Regions from separate parts of the Homo sapiens genome. Here region 2 is linked to region 1. The links come from fine-mapping of genetic effects on gene expression. A gene starts in region 1. The other region holds a variant in brackets. All regions are shown on one strand. Distances are from middle to middle.

What was found.
Region 2: its variant is fine-mapped to the expression of GPSM1 in tibial nerve (GTEx, PIP above 0.99).

What each region holds. Positions count from the first base shown.
Region 1 is chr9:136,322,116-136,333,140 of GRCh38, forward strand. GPSM1 (G protein signaling modulator 1) reads left to right here and starts at 5,424. Exons shown (of 14, transcript NM_001145638.3): 1 at 5,424-5,648. The coding sequence starts at 5,581. It overlaps DKFZP434A062 (a long non-coding RNA gene), which reads right to left and starts at 5,208. Exons shown (of 1, transcript NR_026964.3): 1 at 187-5,208. RefSeq lists enhancers at 1,801-2,427, 2,428-3,056, 5,586-6,115, 6,116-6,644, 10,702-11,025 and a silencer at 4,258-4,552.
Region 2 is chr9:136,347,285-136,358,309 of GRCh38, forward strand. It overlaps GPSM1 (G protein signaling modulator 1), which reads left to right. Exons shown (of 14, transcript NM_001145638.3): 10 at 1,413-1,483; 11 at 2,303-2,479; 12 at 8,406-8,562; 13 at 9,058-9,266; 14 at 10,730-11,025. The coding sequence ends at 10,936. Among named protein-coding and RNA genes, the nearest start is that of DNLZ, 11 kb to the right of the region's middle. RefSeq lists an enhancer at 5,433-5,727. The variant A/AGTGGCCGG (reference allele first, on the strand shown) is at 4,670.

The DNA of each region.
Region 1 (11,025 bases):
TTTTTTTTTGTAGAGACAAGATCTCCTTGTGTTGCTCACACTGGTCTCAAACTACTGGCCTCAAACGCTGAGTGCTTCCCAAAGTGCTGGGATTACAGGCGTGAGCTTCTGTGCCTGGCCGTGAAGACCTTTCAGTGATGCATTTCAGTCCATTCCTGCTGCCGTAACAAAACACCTGAGCCGGGGTCATTGACACACAATAGACATTTATTTCTCACGCTTCTGGAGGCTGGAAGTCCAGGGTCTCGGTGCCAGCAGCCTCAGTGGGAGTGGGGGCTGCTCTCTGCCTCCCAGTGGGTGCCTCTTGCTGTGTCCTCTCCCGGCGGAAGGTGAGAGGACAAAGGGGAGGGGGCCTCGATGGCTTCCCAAGCGCTTCAATGGGGACCCTGGTGACTTAATCACCTTCCAAAGGCCCCACGTCTTATAACGATCTTCTTGGGTCTCAGGTTCCAACATATGAAGGCTGGGGACACACAAACTCAAACCACAGCAGTGACACCCGGGAAAACAGTTGTGACACGCTGTGACAAAGGAAAGCCGCAAAGCCACACGCGTGGACCTGATCCAAGTTACGTGATAGCGCAAGGGGGTGCATGGAGGACTGAGTGGGTGGTGATGCTGCCCCAGAGGCTGTCCCTGGGAACTGTGCGTGGGGACTTATTTGGGGAAAGGGTCTTTGTGGATGTAATTAAGGACCTCAACATAAGACCATCCTAGATTAGGGGTGGCCTGCAGCCCCTAGAGCTGACCTGGATGAGCATGGACCCTCCTCTGTGACCCCCAGATTCTGAGCTCTGGTCCCCCGAGCTGTGAGGAAACACATGTTGTTTTAGGCCACCCAGTGCAAGGTCATTGGTACAGCAGCCCCGCGAGACTCCTTCGAGGCCCACAGCTCAGCACAGCCACGTTTACCGAGTGCCCTCCGTATGCCAGCCACGGTTCTAACTGCTCAGCCTCCCGCAACCCTCGGAGGTGGAGATGGGCGGGGAACGCGGAATGCGCCTGGGCCTCACAGCTGGGGAGTGGATCTGGGATGTGTACCCCTGCACTGTGCGGCTTCTCTCCCCCAGAGGGTTTCAGACTTACACCCGGCCATCGCACTCCGCAGACTGGAAACTCGCAACTCAAACCCCTAAAAGCGAAAGCTGGGGTGCATTTTCTGTTTGCCTTGGAGGGACTCCCTAGGATTTACTGGGGACGGCCGATTTGCCCTCCTCATCCTGTTTGGTTTGAGCTGATGTTAAAAGACTCGCCTCCCACCGCAGACCCGGGGGGAGACCTGGGGAGCTGCCCTCGGAAGCTGAGCAGCACAGACTCTCCCAGGCATGTGCACCTGTCTGTACATGTGTGCATGTGTGTGTGTGTGCGTGTGTGTGTTTCCCTGGCACTCACAGCATCACCATCTGCCAGGCTGGGTGGGGCGCAGATGAGGAAGACCAAGGAAGTTCCACACGACCTGCCTCGCCATGATGAGTGAGCGTGAGCTGCCTCCTGTGTGCCCTGCCTGCCCAGAGATCCCGGGGACATCACCTGGCTGACAAAGTCTGCAGCTGCCAGCAGTCGGCCAGGAATGCCGCATGGCCAGGTGTCTCATACTGGCGTGGGTGTCGTGCGGCCTCACGCGGCCCTTGAGCTATTTCCAGGTGTGGGTATCATCTCCCAGCGAGGTGCTCAGCCCTGGGGTGGGACAGACCGTTTCCTTCTGGCTCCCTGCAGAGCTTGTGGGCCCCTCCACCCACCCTGCAGTCCCCAAACTCCAGGGACTTGGAGGTCCCCAAGGAAAGGACATGGCAGTGGGAGATGATGTCATGAGGGGACTTGGGCAATGGGGAGGAACACATGGCCAAGCTGGGAGGAAGAATAAGTTCATTCTCAGAGCAACGAGATTATGTGAACATGGTAAACCCAAGTGTTCTTTTTAAGTGAGATTACTGGGAAACAAAGCTGAAACTGTTCCTTCTGTGTGTGTGTGTGTGTGTGTGTGTGTGTGTGTGTGTGTGTGTGTGTTTGGGTGTCCTTCACTGTCTCCCTCCCCACTCCCGGCCTGCTTCTTCCTTCCCCAGCTTGGAATCCACGGTTGAGGCTGGTCAGGAACCATCAGGACCCAGCATGGGTAATGGCAGCTGCTGGTGCCCTAGCCCCCACTGGGTCCTACAGTAGCTGCTTGTTGGGGAAGGGGCCTGAAAAGGTGGGAGCAGAAGGAAGCCAGGGTCTTGGGGCCGTGGGCTGCCACAGCCACCACAGAAACACTCCAACTTCTCCCAGCCCTAGCAAACCAGTGGAGGTGTGTGCTGGTGCTTTGTTCCTGGGGTGGCTTGGGGCCGCCTGGCTGCCTCTCCCGAGCCTGGCCCTCACCCAGGAGGCCACACCAGCCTCGAGTGCCCACCTCCGTCCAGAGCCCCAGCTCCCCACTCCTGGGGGCTGAGCCAAGAACCCTGTGGCTGTCCCACCGTCGCCTCCCAGAGGCTTGTCCGGCGCAACAGGACAAGGAAGGACTAAGGCTTAGAGTCGGCCCGATCAGGTGACGCCTGAGCTGTCACCGCTGTCACCACTTACACACAGGGTGTGTGGACAAAGTGGTGCGTGCCAGGGAGGGCTAAGTGACCGAGGGCAGGCACGTGGCAGGCTCCTGAAGGTGGAGGTGGCGCTGACAATGGCCACCAGTGAGCAGGGCCCTGTGTGTGCTGGGGCTGACTCCAACCCCTTGGCGCTGCCACGCAGGGGCTTGGGAGGGCCCCTCCCCAGGCACATGGGAGGTGGCCCCTCCCTGACCACGGAGCCATCGTGTCTGCAGAGGCCCACCCTGCGCCCTGTGCTGCTGCCTGGGGCCAGAAGAATAAGTCGATGTGAAATGGCTTTTTCTTTCCTCACCCCCCTTTGGGAGTCAGGCCCGTTAGGAATGGAAGGGGCTGTGCTCCTGGTCCCCTGGGGGAGTGAGCTTCCCGGACTCTTGGGGGGATCTGGTAAGGTGGATGGTGGGAGGCTCGAGGGTGTCCAGAGCCTGATGGGAGGGGGTGGCAGTGGAGGGTCATCCCTCCAGGGTCTCCCTTCTGGATGTGGACACCACATGTCAGGCCTGTCACCTGGCCTTGTCACACTCCATCTCTGGGTCCCCTTCATAGGTTTTCTCGACAGGAGAATCAGGTCCCTGGATAGGAGGAGACGCCCCTCTGTGCAGTGTGGTGGGGATGTACCCCCAATCCAGCCAGGACCCACTGCAGGGGCCCAGCAGGGGCAGGCACGAGTGTGAGAGCAACATGACCCCAGCAGCTCTCGCTGTGTGCCAGGCACATGGACACGCACCACACAAACCCCACCGTGTGCCAGGCACACGGACAAGCACCGCACAAACCCCACTGTGAGCCACTAGGCACATGGACAAGCACTGCACAAACCCCACTGTGTGCCAGGCACATGGACAAGCACCGCAGAAACCCCACGCCTCAGTGACCCTCCACACCTTGCGGGACGGGCAGCCCTCAGGTGACAGAACCGAGGCTCAGAGAGGGAAAGCAACTTGTGCCAGGTCACACAGCCTCATAGCCCAGCTCGGCCTAACAAAGCCAGAGCCCTCGGGGGTGCAGGTTTCCCCACAAGTTCTGATATAATGTTGGGGCTCTCCCGGCCCAGGGACACAAGCTCCCAGCTCTCTGCATCAAGGAAGGAGACCAGGAGAAGCTCCCCCAGCAATGACAGCTACGAGGCTGCAAATCTCTCCCTCCCTCCACCATTTGTGCAATGTCTTTTGTCCCCACTTCTCTTCACCAGCCTCCCACCACTAACCCAGGGGACCCACAAGGGGCTCACAGTGTTGGTGTGGACCCTCTGTGGGCCTCCTGATGGCAGCAGCGCCTGGGGAAAGAGGGCTGAGCTGAGGCCTGGCACAGGCAGGGCCCCCAGCAGCCCCTGCCCTTACAATGGGATGCTGGCTCAGGTGCCCGAAGCCCAAAGGAGGTGGCCCGGAAGGTTGGAGCTTCAATCGAAGGCCTGTTCTCTGCCCGCAGCCAGGCCCAGGGCTGTGGCAAAGGAGGGTGGTGCCCCAGCCAACACCACTGTCCCTGCCGGCCAGCAGCCACGGCCCCGGCTGGAAGGGAGCAAGGCTCTGCCTGGCTTCTGTGGTCTTTGGGGGAGGGCACGTGGGCCCAGCAGGCAGCTTGCGCTGCGCTCAGGGCACAGATGGTTCTCATTCCCGTTGCCTCCCTTACACAGGAAAAACAAACCAGCCCGGGGCCAACAGACCCCTTTTTAACCTCGTGTTTATTTTCCTTCCCATGCTTGAAAACGCTGACTGTCCTGTGGGCGGCAGCTGCTGAGGGTCTTGCCAGGACGGCACTTTCCTGACCTCAGGGCAGCTCTCCCAGGGAGGGGCTGGGGTGCACGGAGGGGCCCCGAAGGAATGCAGCCCATTTCCTGCTCCTGGACTTCTCCGAGTCATACCCGGGGTCGCAGCTGCCTTTCAAGGGCCTGGAGTCTCCTGACACCACCGGAAGGCCCAGGATGCTGTCGGGGGCAGGACAGAACCCGGGGAGGCCGGCTGTGGGCCTCGCTGGCTGCGGAGAACCCCCCAAGCCATCGGGAGCTGAGGGTGGGTGGAGGGGAAGCCACGTCACACCACATAGGCCCACAGGGCTCCAAGAATTCAGAGGAGGAGGAGGAGGCGGTAGGGGCTGGGGTCCCGGGACCCCGGGTGGGCACAGCCTACTGTGCCACCTGCATCCTCCCTAAGCCTGCACAGTGCCCAGGAGGAAGGAAGGGGCAGGCTGCATCCCCATTCCGGGGGAGCTTGGGAGGGGAATGTGGCCACCCAGGGTCTCAGAGGTGGGGGGCTTACCAACCGTCCCACAGGCCAAGCAGAGCCTGTATTTGTCATCGGTGCCCCAGGTTTCTCTAAAGCAGGCAGACAGCATCCCCACGGCCTGCGCCCCATGGCCCAAGGCAGAAGTTTGGAGAAGGGGGCAAAGCCACGTTGGGGCTGCACAGAAGAGGAGGGTAGGACCCCCGAGGCGTAGGGCGCCCACCAAGAAAGGCAAGGAGGCCTCAGCAGCCCCTCCCCACGTGGGTGAGGCTGCGGGGCTCACCAGGCGGCCTGTGGATGAAAGGAGCCCAGAGGCCAGTGTGGCTGCACTGTGACCCAGGGACCCCCGCGGGCCCTCAGAAGTCCCCAGGGGACCAGCAGCAAGGCCAGGCCCAGGCCCTCTCCCCTGCATTCCCTGGGGTGGGGTGGGCTGGGGCCCACACCCCCTCCCCCCTCCCCCCTCCCCGGGGACTGCCCGCCTCACGGCGCCCCTCCCCCCGCGTCCGCCCCGCCCCCCGCAGAGGGAGGCACGCGGCGGTGGCCGCCCGGTCCGCGCCCCCTCCCCGCGCGGGCGGCGGTGACATCACGGCCACGGCGGCGGGAGGGGCGGCGGCGCCCCGCGCACATCACTTCCTCGGCGCCTCCCCGGGGGAGGACGGGCGAACGAGGCGCGGACGGACAGGCGGACAGCAGGGCGGACAGCAGGGAGGACAGCAGGGCGGGCAGGGGGCGGACGGCCACGGCGCGGGGGGCGCTCCCGGCTCCCGCTCCCGCGTCCCCGACCCATGGCGGGCCCGGCCCCGCCCGCGGCCGACGAGCTCCCGGGCCCGGCCGCCAGGCGCCTCTACTCCAGGTAGGACGGGCCGGGGCCGGGGCCGGGGCCGGGGCTGGGACCGGACCGGGCCGGGTCGGGACGCGGGGGAGGCTGCAGTTGGGAACAAAGGCAGCTCTCGCGGGCGCGCAGCGTGGCTGAGGACGCGCCCCTCCCTCCAGGCCGAGCCCAGCCCGGCGTGTGCCCGCGTGGGCGTCCCCTGAAGCCCTCTTTCCCCCAAGCCAAGGGGAAGGGGGTGGGGGGCCGGGGGGCTGGAGGCGGGGTGGGCAGCTTCTCCAGCCTCACTCCCCTGGCACCTGGCAGGGGCACCGTGGGGTGCTTCCCTCCCAAGCCTGGCCCTGCCATGCCCGGGGCACTCAGGGGCATCATGGCCAAAGAGACCTGGCTGCTCTGGATGGGGCTCTGCCCCTCACCAGCCCTCCACGAGCCCAGTGGGATCCAGCTGGGTTGGAAGGGAGCCAGCCAGGTGGGTGTGTACCTGCCTGAAAAGGCATCTACTCTCCGGGCACATTCCTGGGTGATCCCAGTGACTGGGCTCTGTGCCCCACGCCTTTGGGGATGACAGGGTGGCCCTGCCCCAGGTGGCATGCCTGCCTGGTGACTCCCAATGTCCCCCCAGGGGCTGCCCTGGGCCCAGCCGGGCAGGTGCCTGGAGCCCCAAGCAAGGCTGGGTGGTACCAGGCCTCAGGCAGAGCCACACGAGCGTGAGGTCCAGGCAGGGGCTTGCGAATGGGTGGCAGCCGTCAGAGGCAGGCCTGGCTCCCCAGAGCGAGGGACACTATTGTCCTCTGGACATCCCTAAAACCTGGTGACCTCCCTGATAGGGGTCCCAGCAGCTGATCCCGGGGGGCGCCTAGCCTGGCCCCCAAGGATTCTCTGGCCCCAGCCAAGCAGCAAGCCTCTGCCTGGGGCACCCGAAATGAGGTACTGGTGGCGGCACGGCGGACAGAGGCCTTGCTGCCTCCGGTCTGCTCTCTGCTTTGGTCCCAGACACAGCCCCATTGTGCCGTCCTGGATGGAGCGCTGAGCCCCTAGCCTGGCTCCTGGGCCCCACGCAGGGGAGGGGCGTGAGGGTGATTTTGCTGGCAGCTGCTGCCAGGGGCCTGCCCTAAAGGATTTTCAAGGGTTTCCTCCGCTGATCTGATCGGCTGTGCAGGGCCGCATGTGCTCCAGGGCGGCCGTGCTGTGAGGGGGATGGATAGCAGCCCTGGCTGGAGTGAGTTTGAGTGTGAGTGTGTGGAGCTGTGAGAGAGTGTGTGTGTGGAGCTGTGAGAGACGGGTGTCCAAGACCTTAGCCTTGGGTGAGGCCTGCACAGCTGACCATAGAGTTGGGCATTCTCCAGGCTACAGCTAGAAGCCTGGGGTCCCCTGGGGACACGCCAGGCAGGAGCCAGCCCCTGGCAGGGGCAGTGCTCAGGGGGACCACTCAGAGAGACCCCAGACCCAGCCTTGCATCCCCCTAAGCAGGGAGTCCAGTTGAGCTCCAGGGTGGAGTCAGGCCCAGACTTGGGGGAAGCGCGCCAAGCCCTCCAGCAGGGCCTGTGACGAGGTCCCCCCGGGAGTCTGCACCCCACCGTGTAGCCACAGCCCGGTTTGGGCAGGCGGTTCCTGGTCGGAGCTGGCTTCAGAGCATGGATGCCTAGACGTGTTCTGGGCCAGTGGAAGCTGCGGGCCAGACGGGAGGGCCCTTTGCTGTCATGCTGGGGCTGGAGAGCAAGACACGGAAAAGTCTCCTGTCTCCTGAAACCCGAGTGCTGGGGGCGGCCCACCTGCTGGCGTGGGCGGTGGGCATGTGGATGCCCTGGAGGTGGGCGGAATCCGTGTGGGCACTCCTCACGTGGCTGTACTGGGGTCCCTCAATGTGGATGGGGCTCCAGGTTGGCCCAAGGTCTCCTCTGCCCCGTCTACTGCCTTCCCACACTGACATTCCTTCCTGGAGAGAGGAGTTTCAGCTTTTAAAATGGGGAACTGTGCCTGGAAAACACACTGACAGCGAGGCCCATGAATGTGCCCATGAGCCCACTGGGTACCCTGAGGGGCCCTGGGTGCTGGGTCGGTGGGGACGGGCCCCTGGGTTCTGGGTCGGTGGGGACGGGGCCCTGGGTGCTGGGTCGGTGGGGACGGGCCCCTGGGTGCTGGGTCGGTGGGGACGGGGCCCTGGGTGCTGGGTCGGTGGGGACGGGCCCCTGGGTGCTGGGTCGGTGGGGACGGGCCCTTGGGTTCTGGGTCAGTGGGGATGGGCCCTGGGTGCTGGGTCGGTGGGGACAGGGCCCTGGGTGCTACAGTTAATGCTCAGAATTCTGGCCCACTTGCCAGGGGCTCCCTGGCCCAGAGCAGGGCTTTGGGGTGAAGAGGCCTGGCGGGGACAGGCCAGTGGCTGAGAAGGCCCCGGAAAGTGGGGAAACCCTGGGTGGTCGTCTCCTGGCCTCCCACCTGCTTTAAGGCCAGCTGAGTGCTCCCCGGGGCTGGGGCCGGGAAGGGGCAGCAGAGCCACCCACCTTGGGGTGACCCTGTTAGAGATGCCCTCCAAGCAGCAGTCACCAGCTCCCAGACAGGACGTCCTCAGGTGTGGACTGGGCCCCCCGCAACCTCTCTGGCCACATGGCCATGCTACCCCCTACCTTCACTCCATCCTTCCTCCCTCCCCTGTCCCCGTCCTGGGCACCATCCCTGGTGGGTCGCTGGGCAGCGACGGGCCCTAGGAATTCCTGGCAAGCCTGACCCCAGGTGCTTCCTACAGCTGGGTGACCTTCAGTCCCCTCTCCAGTGATTCCAGCTCCCGCTGTGCTCCCAGCCCGGTCCTGCGCCTCACTCTCTCCCCTCCCCTGGCCACTGAAGGGGAGTCGGTGTGGTTTTCCCTGGGGGTGTCTGGCTGGGGGATGGGGCAGATAGAGCCAGCTGTGAGCAGAGTCTCTTCAGCATCTGCTCAGGGGCCAGCATGTAGGTGACGGCCTTGGGGAGGGGCAGGTGCCAATTCTGTTAGCAGGGCTGGGACTGAGGGACACGGCTTTCGGGTGGCCGGAGGTAGTAGGAGTTGCAGTGCTGGCTTGGGAACTGGCCTTGGTGATGGCACCCCAGCCACCACGGAGGGTCTGAGGGTTCAGTCTGTTGACGAGGACTGGGCAAGGGAGAGGCATTCTAGGTCCTGCCCCGCCTTTGGCCAAGCTGTCCTGAAGGTGGACAAATGGTCTGGCCTGAGTAGGACCCCTGAGCCCACAAGGCCTCAAGGTAAGGAGGAGAGAGCCCAGGGCCTGAAGACCCCCACCTGTCCTTGGATTCCTGCCTCTGCTCAGACCCCGTGGCCGTCTCAGGGATAAGACCTGCCCCCCCAGTCCCCCGCCTCTGTCAGGTTCCAGCCTCCTCATGGGCCACAGGTGGCTGGAGAAGCTGGGAGCCCAGCTGAGAAGGACGCCGGGGGCTTGGGAAGTTTGAGGAAAGGAGCCAGGCTAGGGGAACGTGGTCCATGCCTCCCAAGCCCCACGACCTGGGGAGCGGCATCCCCCAGGCCCCACGTGGCCCTGACCCCGTCAGACCTGGGGCCCTGTTCGCACCTTGGCCAGTCAGGTGAGGGAGAGCACAGAGGGCCCGGCAGACGTGGGGCTGGCATGGTGAGGACTCTGAGCCCCCCCCCCCCGCTGCCCCATGCTGGCACCGTGGGCTGGTGCCAGGGAGGCTGGGGAGGGGGCCAGGTGGGGTCGGGTGGAGCAGAGGAGGCACAGGGGCCTGGAGAACCGGTAGGCGGCCAGGGGCCACCACTGCGCAGAATTCCAGCTTTGCCCAGCCCTGGGCCAGGCCTGGGGGAAGAGGTGCTGGGCTGGGGGCACTCACACACTCTGGACGCCATTCCTCTTTCCATTCACAAACGTGCCTGGCGCTCCCGAGTGAGCCCGGTCCTGGGGCAGAGCAGCCCCCGCTGGGAACTGGATAAACGTTTGCAGAGGAGTTGGCGGGTGACTGACGGGAGGGCAATGCCGCTGGTCCCAGTCCCTGGAGGAGCACGTTGGACGGGATTACCCCAGGGCTCCCCGCCCCGCTGCTGACGAGGCTGACCCAGCCTCTGAGCTGTCCTTGATCCCTTGATCCACGTCAGGGATTGGGGAGGCCCCCGAGCACCTGCTGGAGGACTGGCAGTCCCCCGCCGAGCTTTAAACCCACCATCCTGGAGGTCAGAGGGCAGGGAAGCCTAAGGCCAGCCCACCCCCCAGGACCCGTGGCCATGGTGGGGCGAGGGCTGGCTTGGGGGAGGAGGGCCTGGGGCCTGGCGATGCCATCCCCTGCTGGGGAGGGCCCGCCTCTGGCCCTGAGCTTGGCGGAGAAGGCCGTGTGCAAGGTGGTGTATGGCGCCCCCCGCCCCCGCCCGCTGCTGCTGCCCGTGGGCCTGGAGCTGTGGCTCTACGTGCAGAAGATGCGAAACCTGCAGAGGAAGAGGTGCGGCGGGCAGCGAGTGGGGTGGTCACGTGGGTGTGGGTGCCAGGGCGTGGTTGGAGGCTGTCTTGGGATGAGTGGAGGGGACACCCACCTGGTGCAGCTGCAGGTGGCTGGCTGCATTGCCTGGATCCCAGATTGGAGGTGCAGAATGACAGAGGCCCATCCGTGCACCCATCCCCGACTTTTAGGCCCAGGCCCTTCCCAGGCCAGAAGCCTCCTTCGCCTTGAGCCTCGGATGCCACGTCTCCGGCTGGAAGGGAGGCGGGAGGTGGCTCCCATCATCAGATCTGCGGAGCAGCAGCGTCTGGGCTCCACAGACACCCAGGCCTCAGGCCTGAAGCCCCTCTCCTCCGATGTTGCCTGGAAGGAGGGGGCAGTAAACCGAGTGAGACCACTTGAAAAGTGGCTGGGTGGGGCAAGTGGGCCTTAATCAGGAAGCCCCGTGCGTGGCGCTGGCTGCAGGATGGGGCTTGGCTGGTTGTCATGGCGACGGTGGGCTCCTGTGACCCACGTGGCATCCGGATGGCCATTCCCAGAGGGATGGGTGAGGTGGCTGTGAGGTGCCTGGCAGGTAGTGGGTGGGAGGGCCTGGCCCTGAGGTGAGAGGATCACTTGAGCTCAGGAGTTTGAGACCAGCCTGGGCAACATAGTGAGACCCCCATCTCTACCAAAAAAAAAAAAAAAAAAAAAAAGCTGGGCATGATGGTGCAAACCTGAAGTCCCAGATACTTGGGAGGCTGAGGTAGGAGGATGGCTTGATCCTGGGAGATGGAGGCTGTAGTGAGCCGAGATCGCACCACTGCACTCCAGCCTGGGCAACAGAGCAAGACCGTGTCTCTATAAAAATAATAATGGTAACATAAGTTTTAAAAATGAAAAATGAAAGCAACAGAAAGCAAACAGGAATGATGGGGCCGGCCTGCAAGCAGCCGAGGCTGAACCCTTCCCCCACTTCTCTGAAATCAGGTCC
Region 2 (11,025 bases), 25 kb after region 1:
ACTGATGCCAGGGCTGGTTCTGGCCCCGCCCTCGGACTCACACTGGGTGTGCGCAGGGCTCCTGGGCACAGCCCGTGTCCAGTGTGTCCACGGGTGGAGGGACGCTTGGTTCCCAGGAAGACTGGGTAAGGGTGGGCATAGGGGGGTGGGAGCTGTGGGTGAGCAGGGAGGAGGATGAGGGTCCTCCCAGCTGCGAGAGTCTCCCTGGAGATGTGCCAGGCGTAGGGACAGCAGAGACAGGGTCCTCAGTGTCAGCCTCGTTCCGCCGTCGTCCCCTCTGCCTAGAACGTTCTGCTGCCCTTTCCACAGTGGCTGTGCCCCTGTCCGTCCCGCCGCCTCCTCAGGGAAGCGCCCGCAGACCCTGGCTCTCAGCCACAGCATCGGGCCCTTCCCACAGGGCTTCCTGCCTGGTTGAGGACATTCCCCACTTCCCGGATTCCATCCCATTTTTTCCGTTCGCCAACTGATTTCTGATCTGCCAGGTCTGTCGTGCCCTGGATACAGGCTCCTGAGAGTGCTCAGGGAGCGGCTGGGCTGAGGTAGGGCCCACTCTCCCAAACTCCCAAATCCTTTCGGGCCCCGCAGGGCTGAGCGACACCCGTCTCTGCCAGGGCTGTGTTGGGACAGGGCTGAGTGACACCCGTCTCTGCCAGGGCCGTGTTGGGACTGAGGCTTGAAGGTGGGCCTGGCTGTGGGGCTTCCCAGGGGCCCGGGACAGGCACTGGTGGCTCCGCTGAGTCTGCAGCTGGCCAGTGTTGGGTCAGGCAGCTGTGCCCCACCACCCCACTGCGGCTAGAGGGGATGGGGGTCCCTTGGGTGGAGACACGGCCAGTAGGGTGAGCCCCGGGCCAGGAGGGATGGACAGGAGCCCGGGGAAGGTCCCACGGCAGAGCTGGTCTGGGGGATTCATCTGAGGCCTTTGCGTCCCCGACCCTGGCCTGGGCTGCCCGCAGTGAGCTGGGAGTGGACCCACAGGCCCGCCCCACCTGCCTCCGGGGCACAGCATGATGCACCCTCAGGAGGGGGGATTGGGTGGCCTCACAGAGGTGACCAGGGGCCACAGGAAGGGTGATCCAGGCAGAGGGAACAGCAGGACTGACGGGGGAGGCCCTGTGTGCGGCAGGGGAGAGGCCTGTCCAGAGCCGGGCCCTTCCAGCACAGGGAGCCAAAGCCAGACCCCACCTGGCCCCAGCCAGGACGCGCTCTGTCTCGACACCTGTCCCCTTTGACTCTGACAGTACAGTCGGGGAGACGCAGAGGACACTCAGACATGGCGCTCGCCTCCACAAGGGGGGCTGGCTGTCAGAAAGCCATGGCCGGGCTGGTCCTTGGCCCCCCAGAGACTCTGGCCTGGCCCACCCAATGCGAGGTGCCAGGGTGGTGCTGGGCTGACCGGGTCCCTCTGTCTTCAGGGGCCAGACCCAAGAGGACGCAGAGGCTGAGCGCGGAGACCTGGGACCTGCTGAGACTCCCCCTGGAGCGGGTGAGCCAGGGACACGGGACCGATGTCAGCACAGCCGCTGCCAGAGCATGGGCAGCGGGGTTAATGAGGCAGAGCCACCGCCACCCACCTCAGCCCCTGTCTGCTGGGAGATAAATGTGCCCTCCTCGGCCTGATGCCCTGCATGGCCCATCTGCCACCTGCTCACCCATGTCCCTCAGCGTCTGGCCAGCTGTGCCCCAGGCGAGGCATGGTCCTCACACATTTCAGGCCCCCATACTCCACCCAGCTGCTATGCCACCACACCCTCGGGAGCCCACAGACAGGGGCACCCACTCCTGCCTGCTCCCTGCCCTCTCGGACTCTGACCCAAAGTGGGCACAGCTGCTGCAGGTGCAGACACTGGCTGGGGTTCAGCAGACCCACACAGACAGATTCGGGGGCTGCCTGGCGTAGGGCCCTGGGCTGGCCCTGTGCCTGTCGGCAGTGGGTGCTGTGTGGCCTGGGCCAGCAGCCTGATCTCTCTGAGCCTCTGGTTCCTCTGGTGTGGCCTGTGTTCAGTTGTGGATGGCCGTCAGGGTTCTGCTGTGGGGACGAGACCCAAGGACGCCCACAGTCACTGTCATTGCTGGTATAAGCCGGCTGACATTTGCGGGGGCCACTGGCCCTCAAACACCCCACCCTGCCTCTCCCGGCCCCAGCCAAGGGCCCACAGCCCCAGTCCTCTCCTCCTCTCTGGGTACTGGGCACCTACGGCGTGCATCCATGAAATGGAGGCGGCCTGGCCTTCCCTTCAGGGTCCTGGGATGGGGACATTGGTTCACAATTGCCCAGGCCACGCACAGCCTTACCCCTCCCCAGGAGCAGAATGGAGACAGCCACCATTCAGGGGACTGGCGGGGGCCCAGCAGGGACTCGCTACCCCTCCCCGTGAGGAGCAGGAAGTACCAGGAAGGCCCGGACGCTGAGAGGAGGCCCCGGGAGGGCAGCCACTCCCCGCTGGACAGCGCCGACGTCCGGGTGCACGTGCCACGCACGGTAGGCGTCTTTGACGGCAGATCCAGGCCGAGAGGGAGGAGAGCTTGGCAACTGCGCCCCAACTCCACTGCCAGCCAACGGGGCCAGGTCAGGCCCGGGCACTCCGGGGAGGCAGGGGTCCCTCCCCGGTGCACCTGGTGCAGTGCTGTCCTGGGACCCCGGTGGGGGCTCTGGGCAGGGCTCAGTGTTTAGCATTGTGGTCGCACCTGGCCTCAGAGGCCCCGGCCACCGAGGAGCCTCCTGGGGACTCTAGGCTGGGCTCTTCTGCATGGAACGCCCCGCCTCTCTTTGGGCCTCAGTTTCCATCTTGTTCACCAGTTGGGGGCTGGCTCTTCCCAGCCTTCAGGTGGCCTCTCTCTCTGACTCCAGCCCCCACCCTCCTTTGTTGGGACCCTCCAGACCCATCCGCTAGTCACAGGAGCGTGTCCCTGAAAGGAACTGGCTGCCTTCACTGTGAGAGCCGGGCTGCACAGATCCCCTGATGGGGTGCCCCTTCCTGAGGTGGCTCTTGGAGGCTCTGGCCAGTGAGGTCAAGCCTGTGTATCCTACCAGGGCCCTGGAGGGGTGGACGAGGCCAACACAGTCCCTGGGGGAATCCTGGGATCTCTGACACCTGGCGGGGGTCCCTGAGCAGAGGGGCCTGAGGGGCACCCAAGGGGTGGGTGGGAAGCCCCTAAGCCACACCCATGGTCAGGCCCTGGTGTGGAAGCACCTGCAGCTCCAGCTGGGCCAAGGTACTGGGGCCTCTCCTTGTGGGTGCAGGGGCCGGGGCAGGACCGATGGTGAGTGGGGTCATGGAGGGGATGCAGCTGGGTGGCCTGTGCATGGCTGCAGAGCCCCTGGTGAGGGGACAGCAAGGGGCTAGGTCCACTCAGGGTTCCTCCTGGTCAGGGGCTGGGAGGCCCCACCCTGCCCTACCCCACCTGGGCTCAAGGTCACGAGTGGAGCAGAGGGTCACAGCCCAGCAAGCAGCAGCAGCGCAGCCTGGGCGCCACCCGGGTCCTCAGGGCTAGCCAGGAGCCCCCCGCGTTGCTGTGGCACACAGAGGTGGCGGGAGGGGTGGGGCAGTTGCAGTGACTGCCAAGTGTATGGGTGGACGGACGGGGGACAGACAGACTGGTGGTCAGACTCGGGGTTGGTGGGGGGACAGGTGACAGGCCGGGCCTGTGCCTGGCAGGTGTCAGCTGTGCCAGGGCCACCCCAGCCACGGGAGAGCTGGTTGGTGTTCAGGGGCACCGATGGGCCGAGTCCGGGTTCGGAGGTCAGCCTGGAGCTCCCCCGAGCAGGACGGCTGGGTCCAAACCACTAGAAATAGTCTGAAATTGTTCTTCCGTGGGCACCAACCTGCAGAGGGGTGTGGGTGCTGGGCTGGGATTCGCAGCCCCCCGAGGCTGCCCAAGCCCATCCTTCCCACCAGCAGGGCACAGCCTACCTTCCCCTCATTCAGCCCCAGCACTGCCCAACCATCTGGGCTAGGTCCATCCGTCCACTGATGGGAGAGGTGTGGAGGGAAGGGCACCCAGGGAGCACCTGGTCAGGCCTTCCCGGGGGTCCCGGTGATCCCCCAGCCTCCCTGGGCCTGGAGGGAGGAGCAGGACTGGGACCCAGACACCTGCCCTGTCCACAGCTGGCCCTGCCCTGTCCACAGCTGGGTCTGCCCTGTCCACAGCTGGCTCTGCCCATCACATCTGGGCCGCCAAGGAAGGAGTGGGAGGCTGGCAGCATGTGTGGGACAGACCAGTCAGCCGGCCTCAGGGGCTGATGGCTTTCTAGAAAGCACAGCCTCTGAGGGCTTCCAGGCTTCACGTCACCCCAACAAACTGCCCTGGGTCTGGGCCAGCAGGGCAAGGGGACACAGTTCCAAGTGTCCAGCTGCCTGGCCCAGCACTCTGGAGGCCTTGGCCAGGGCCCCAGGGAGCCCCCACCTGCTGCGGGCCCTGCTCCCCTGGCCCCTGCAACCACCGCGGGGCAGGACGCCTGGGACAGCCAAGATCCTGGCCCCAGACAAACGGGGTTCCCAGGGTCTGTGAGGACGTGGCAGGGCCTCTTGGCTTTCTGCTGACCTGAACCCCACTGGCCTTACCGAGGTCAGAACCTTGGGTACCTCCGAGTAAGGACCGTCTGCACCCTGGTGGCAGCCTGTATGGGGACTGCAGCGAGGGTGGGTGGGGGATACATCCCTGGGGCGTC[A/AGTGGCCGG]GTGGCCGGGTGGGCCCCCTTCCCCCTCTGCTGGGGTCCTCAGGGAAGGGCTTTCAGCTCTCAGTTGGGGTCCTCATCTGCAAAGTGCAGCTGATACCAATACTGCGCCGTTGCTGTTGGTGACACCAATACTGCGCCGTTGCTGTTGGTGACACCAATGCTGCGCCGTTGCTGTTGGTGACACCAATGCTGCGCCGTTGCTGTTGGTGACACCAATGCTGCGCCGTTGCTGTTGGTGACACCGATGCTGCGCCGTTGCTGTTGGTGACACCGATGCTGCGCCGTTGCTGTTGGTGACACCGATGCTGCGCCGTTGCTGTTGGTGACACCGATGCTGCGCCGTTGCTGTTGGTGACACCGATGCTGCGCCGTTGCTGTTGGTGACCAACCAGCCCCTGCCCCTCCCCACCCTGTGCCCAGACAGTGCAGGGGCCTTGCAGCCAGCACATTCGGGGCTTTGGGATCTGAGGCGGTGTGGCTGGGTGTGGTCTGGGGGTCCAGAGAACTCATTCTGGGGTGGAGGGTAGGGGACAGGGCAGGGTTGGCCTCAGAGGCTGGAGACAGTGTAGGTCCAACCAGGAATGAGACAGAGAGGCAGCAACCAGAGGCTTGAGTTGAGCTGGCCGGGAGGCCCTTGAGCCAGGGCACTGGGGAGCCACCGAGGGCTGTGGGACAGGAAGGGCCGTCCCGGACAGAGGAGTCCAGATGAGGACAGCAACCCGCCCAGGTCCTCTGCGCCTGCCTCCGTAGTCAGGCTGAATAAAGAGGTGGCTTTCCCCACCTGGCCCAGCTCTGGAGGGAGGCCCAGGGGCCCAGGTGTCAGCGGGAAAAGGGCTCTTCGGCAGGCTGTCTGCCCACACAGCCCTCCAGTGTGCCCGCCCACAGGCACGGGGAGGGGGAGGTTCACTGCTGCACTTGCTGGGGGAGTGTTTACGGAGTGCGCCTGTGTGTGAGTGCGAGCCCACGTGCGTGTGTGTGAGCCTGTGTGTGTGCACGCACTCAAGTGAGCAGGGGCGGGCGCTAGGAGGGCCGAGCCCTTGCCCAGGGTCCTATTTAAGCCTCAGGCATCCCAGCATTGAGGCAGCACTTGGCACTTTGGGCAGGGCGGTGGTGGCCCTGGGCACCTTGTGTCCTGCCTGCGCTCTGTGTGGCCAAGCACCCAGCGTGGCTCCCTGCTGCTGTGGAGACAGCCTGTGATCCGCGTGAGTCTGGGGTCCCTGGGGTCCTAACAGGTGGAGGCTGAGGGAGCACACGGGCCTCTGTGAAGCCGGGTGGGGTGGTCTTGGGCCGGGTGCATTCCCCTCCTCCGCAGGAGAAACTGGGCTTGTGCCAAAGCAAGAGAGACTAGAGTCAGACTGCAGGAGGGACTCTGAGGCCTCCGGGAAGGAGGGAGCCAGGGCTTGGGGCAAGGGAGAGGTTAGAGCAGGGAGGCGGAACCCCGAGTCCCACTGGATATGTTCTACTGGGACATAAATGCAGGGGAAGGTGGCCTTGGGGCCCAGGGTCCTGCTTCTGAGGGGCTCCAGGAGCCCCAAACTATCCAGAGCCTTTCCCCGTACCAGGCACTGAGCCACGGTTTTGCACCTGCAGTCGTGGGCCCCTGCCCCCATGTGAGGGAGGCATCAGCCCCTCAACAGCTGGCCCCAGCCTCAGGGAAGGGGAGGGCTGCCCGACATAGGACCCTGAGAGGGGCTCTGCCATGGGGCCTGGGACATGGCCCCTGACGGGTCCTGCCTTTCCCAGGAGGGACCTTGCTCAGTCCACCTGGGCCCCGGGTCACCTGGGGGAGTCCAGATTGGGCCAGAGGCAGAGGCCCCCCGCGGCTGTGCCCTAGGTCATCATAGCCCAGGAGCCAGTTCCTTTTAGACCAGGAGGCCACATCCTCCTGGGGAGGTACCTGTGTGGCCCCAACTGGCACTCAGGCTGGCAACCCCAGTGCCACCCTCTGCCTGGACCTGCAGCTCCCAGAGCCCTGGCCCAAGTGGATGTGGCCCTCCCCACAGACTGGGCCAATTCTCCCCTCCCTCCTGGCTGGGGAATCCGGGGGAGTGGGGGTGTTGCCTTAGGCCTGAGCCAGGCTGCAGGAGGAGAGCCCTGCGGGGAGAAGGGGGTGCTAGAACTCTCCCTCCTCAGGTCTGCCTCAGGGACAGGAGGTACCTCAGGCTTCCGTGACAGCTGGGGACTGACTCCAGGGGCCAGAGCCAGGTGGGGTCTCTCCTAAAACAGGGCTGTCCACAGGGCCCTCGGCTCAGCTCAAGGGTCTGAATCCCAGCTCTTTTTTGCTCCAGCATGACCTTGGGTAGGTCACACATGTCTCTAGGCCCCACTCTCCTGTGCCCTGGGCCGAGTCCAGCAGAAAACTGGAAGCAGGACGGGAGCCCTAGTCCTGGGCTGTGGGGGTCAGGTGTCGGGAATTCCAGTTGTCTGTCAGACAGCTGTCCGTCTCCTGGGCTGTGGGGGTCAGGTATTGGGAATTCCAGGCAGCATCGGGGACCCGGGAGGTGCCATCTCCACCAACATTGCGTCTCTTGTTAACTCGTTCAGCTGTGAGCCCAGCATTTGCAGACCTGGAAGAGGCCACCAGCCGTGAGATGGACAGGCTGGGGCCGGGCAGGGGCTGCCAGCGCCGGTCGGGAGGTGGACGGGGCTTGGAACCATCACAAACACCCTTCAGCCCTGGGGCCCGGACCAGGCCCTGTGAGGCTGGGTCACGGGGTGGACCTGCTTCAGCTGGGCCCCTTGGGGGGCCACAGGAGACCACGCCCTCCAGCCTCCCTTGTTTGGGTGTGTGGACTGAGGCCCAGGGCGGGGTTCATTCCTTCGAGTTCATTCACACAGCAGACACCGGTGAGGGCTGTGTAGGGCATGGACACAGGGAGCTCATGGCAGGGCTGACACAGGGTGTGGTGGGCACAGGGACAGGAGGCACGGGAGGCTTCCCGGGATGTCTGGGAAGTGTTCCAGGCCAAGGCTGGGGAGGCTGGCCCAGGGCAGGTGACGGACAGAGGCCTGGACTGGGGTAGCACCCATGAGAGGGGAGAAGTCCGGGGCAGTCGGCGGGTGCCGAGGGTGAGTGACACGTCCTGGGGGAGGGGTAGCCGGGTGCCGAGGGTGGATGACACATCCTGGGAGAGGGGTAGCCGGGTGCCGAGGGTGGTGACACGTCCTGGGGTAGGGGTAGCCGGGTGCTGAGGGTGGGTGACACGTCCTGGGGGAGGGGTAGCCGGGTGCCGAGGGTGGGTGACACGTCCTGGGGGAGGGGTAGCCGGGTGCCGAGGGTGGGTGACACGTCCTGGGGGAGGGGTAGCCGGGTGCCGAGGGTGGGTGACACGTCCTGGGGGAGGGGTAGCCGGGTGCCGAGGGTGGGTGACACGTCCTGGGGGAGGGGTAGCCGGGTGCCGAGGGTGGGTGACACGTCCTGGGGGAGGGGTAGCCGGGTGCCGAGGGTGGGTGACACGTCCTGGGGGAGGGGTAGCCGGGTGCCGAGGGTGGGTGACACGTCCTGGGGGAGGGGTAGCCGGGTGCCGAGGGTGGGTGACACGTCCTGGGGGAGGGGTAGCCGGGTGCCGAGGGTGGGTGACACGTTCTGGGGGAGGGGTAGCCGACAGGGGGCAGGTTAGAGTCCCGATCTTGGCCAGGGTCTCAGAAGTGTGTGTGGCCTGGGCAAGCAGCCCCCGGTCTCGTCTGGGGGTCTGCGGGGCTAGCTTTGGCTGCGGTGACCCCACTCCCTCCCCAGAGCATCCCGAGGGCCCCGTCTTCGGACGAGGAGTGCTTCTTTGACCTGTTGACCAAGTTCCAGAGCAGCCGCATGGACGACCAGCGTTGTCCCCTGGACGATGGCCAGGCCGGGGCTGCCGAGGCCACGGCCGCCCCCACCCTGGAGGACAGGATCGGTGAGTGCCCCCCTCAGCCGGGCCCTCCCTTGGGCTTGTCTGCAGGGGCCAGGACCAGGGCTCCCGTCCTGCTTCCAGTGAGGAGTTTTCGGGGGCAGACCAGCAGGCCAGCTGCAGAGCACCCTGTCACTGAGGGCGCCCTCCGCAGCCCCCACAGAGCAGCATCCCGGGAAGCGTGTCATCAGCCCGCCCTCCGGGACACACTCAGGCTGCAGGGGCAGTCTCAGGGAGGGGGCAGGGCGTGGGGGACTGGCGTTCTCCTCCTGTCTCCTCCTGTCACCCCCTGGAAGCCCCTGAGGTGGGCGTGGGAGCCACAGCAGGGGGAGCAGCTGAGAGCTGCCTAGGCCGGTCAGCGGAGACTCCCCCAGGAGCCATGGCCCCAGCAGCACAGTGGGCTGGGCTGGGCTCAGAGGTCAGAGCTCACTGTGGCCGCAGCCCGAGCCTCGGGCTTGACCCCGCACTGGGTCCCAGGTCTCACCCTCTGGCCCCCCGCAGCCCAGCCCTCGATGACGGCCTCGCCCCAGACCGAGGAATTCTTCGACCTCATCGCCAGCTCCCAGAGCCGCCGGCTGGACGACCAGCGGGCCAGCGTGGGCAGCCTGCCGGGGCTGCGAATCACCCACAGCAATGCAGGGCACCTCCGAGGCCACGGCGAGCCCCAGGAGCCGGGGGACGACTTCTTCAACATGCTCATCAAGTACCAGGTGGGCTGCGGCCCTGGGCGGGCGTGGCTCGCGGCCCCTTTGCCATCCACGTGTGTGGAGGCAACTTGTGTCCTGAGGGGTGAGGTGGGCGCTGGTTCTGCCATCTCCGGTCATGTTTGAGGGACTCCTGGGGGACTCAGCCAGTGTCACCACATGACCAGGGGTGTCTGAGCCTGAAGCCCTACTCCTGGGAACCCCGGGCTGCTGGAGACACCAGAGACCCCCCCTGGCAACCCCAGGACACTCCCAGGCTGTGCCACCCCCCTGCCATGCAGGAACTCGGGGTGGGGGCTGGGGGGTCACAGGTCCTGGAGCTCATGGCCTCAGGGATTCCCCACCAGCCCTCCACACCCGGCAGGGAAAACACGGGCCAGATAGCACCCCCAGAGTGGGGAGGGCAGGGGGATCCAGGGCTGCCAGCTGGCTGGTGGGACAAAAACAGGGACCATCCAGGGACCACACAGTGGACGGCATGGGCGGAGGGTCCAGCCCCAGAGGGCAGAGCCAGGGCCGGGGCTCCAGCCTGGCAGCCACGCCAGGAATGACCTCCTCATCTGTGTGGGGGTGAGCCAGGTAGGGTGGCCGGAGTGGAGACTGCTGAGCCAACTGCTATCCCAACTAGGACCTCAAACTCTGGGGGTCTCGCCATCCCTGTGGGGTGCAGCCATTGCTGGGAAGGGGTTCAGGGTCCGTAGACTTGGGAACAGGCTGGGGGTGGAGGCCGCTTGGCCCACCACGAACCAAGCCAGCACGTTTCCAGGTCTGCCGTCCTCCCCACAGCAGAGAGGAAACCTCGGCCCGGGGCCAGGCGTCCGACCAGCCACCTCCAAACCAGCCCCACCCAAGAGGCCCAGAGTCCCCCATCCACACGCATGCCTGCGCCAGCTCCCGTCCCTCCTGCTCCAGGCGCTTCAGAGAAGCCCAGACAACCCCTTGGCCCCCTGGCCTGCACACTGGAGCAGGCGAGGCCCACGGGGTCAGCCACCTGACACAAGGGGAAGCCCTGGGGGGCGCCACACTTCGGGCTCTGGAAGCTGAGACCTCAGGCCTGCCAGGGTCAGTCCCAGGCTGTGCTGGTTTCCAGGGCTGGGCAGAGGGACGGCCACGCATGCCCGTCCCTGGGGATCAGCAGATGTGGGGAGCAGGCATCCAACGCCGCCCTAGCCACTGTCTCCTGGGCCTGGCACACCCATGCCCAGTGGGAATCGCTGGACCTGCTTTTCCTGGGCGGGCCTGCCCTGGGCTCCTGCGGGTTGGTGGCGGGGCCACCAGAAGACTGCGCTCAGGGCCCGGGCTCCCAGCACAAGACCCCAGAGCGAGGCAGGCCCCAGAACCAATTTCCTGGGTGGACAGGGGGAAGCCCGTGAACAGTGCACGCTGGCCTCTGGAACCACCGCTGCTGACCAGCCCCGGACCACTGGGGCTGGGGGGGTGAGGCCGCCAACTGCACTGTGTCCACCCAGTCCTCCAGGATCGATGACCAGCGCTGCCCGCCACCTGACGTACTGCCCCGGGGCCCTACCATGCCGGACGAGGACTTCTTCAGCCTCATTCAGAGGGTGCAGGCTAAGCGCATGGACGAGCAGCGGGTGGACCTCGCCGGGGGCCCGGAGCAGGGGGCAGGCGGCCCGCCCGAGCCCCAGCAGCAGTGCCAGCCTGGTGCGAGCTAAGGCCCTGTGCCCACCGCCAGGCCCACCCTGCCCCCACTCCTGGACGCCGGTCTCACAGTCACAGCCACGTCCTCCCGAGGCCATTGCCG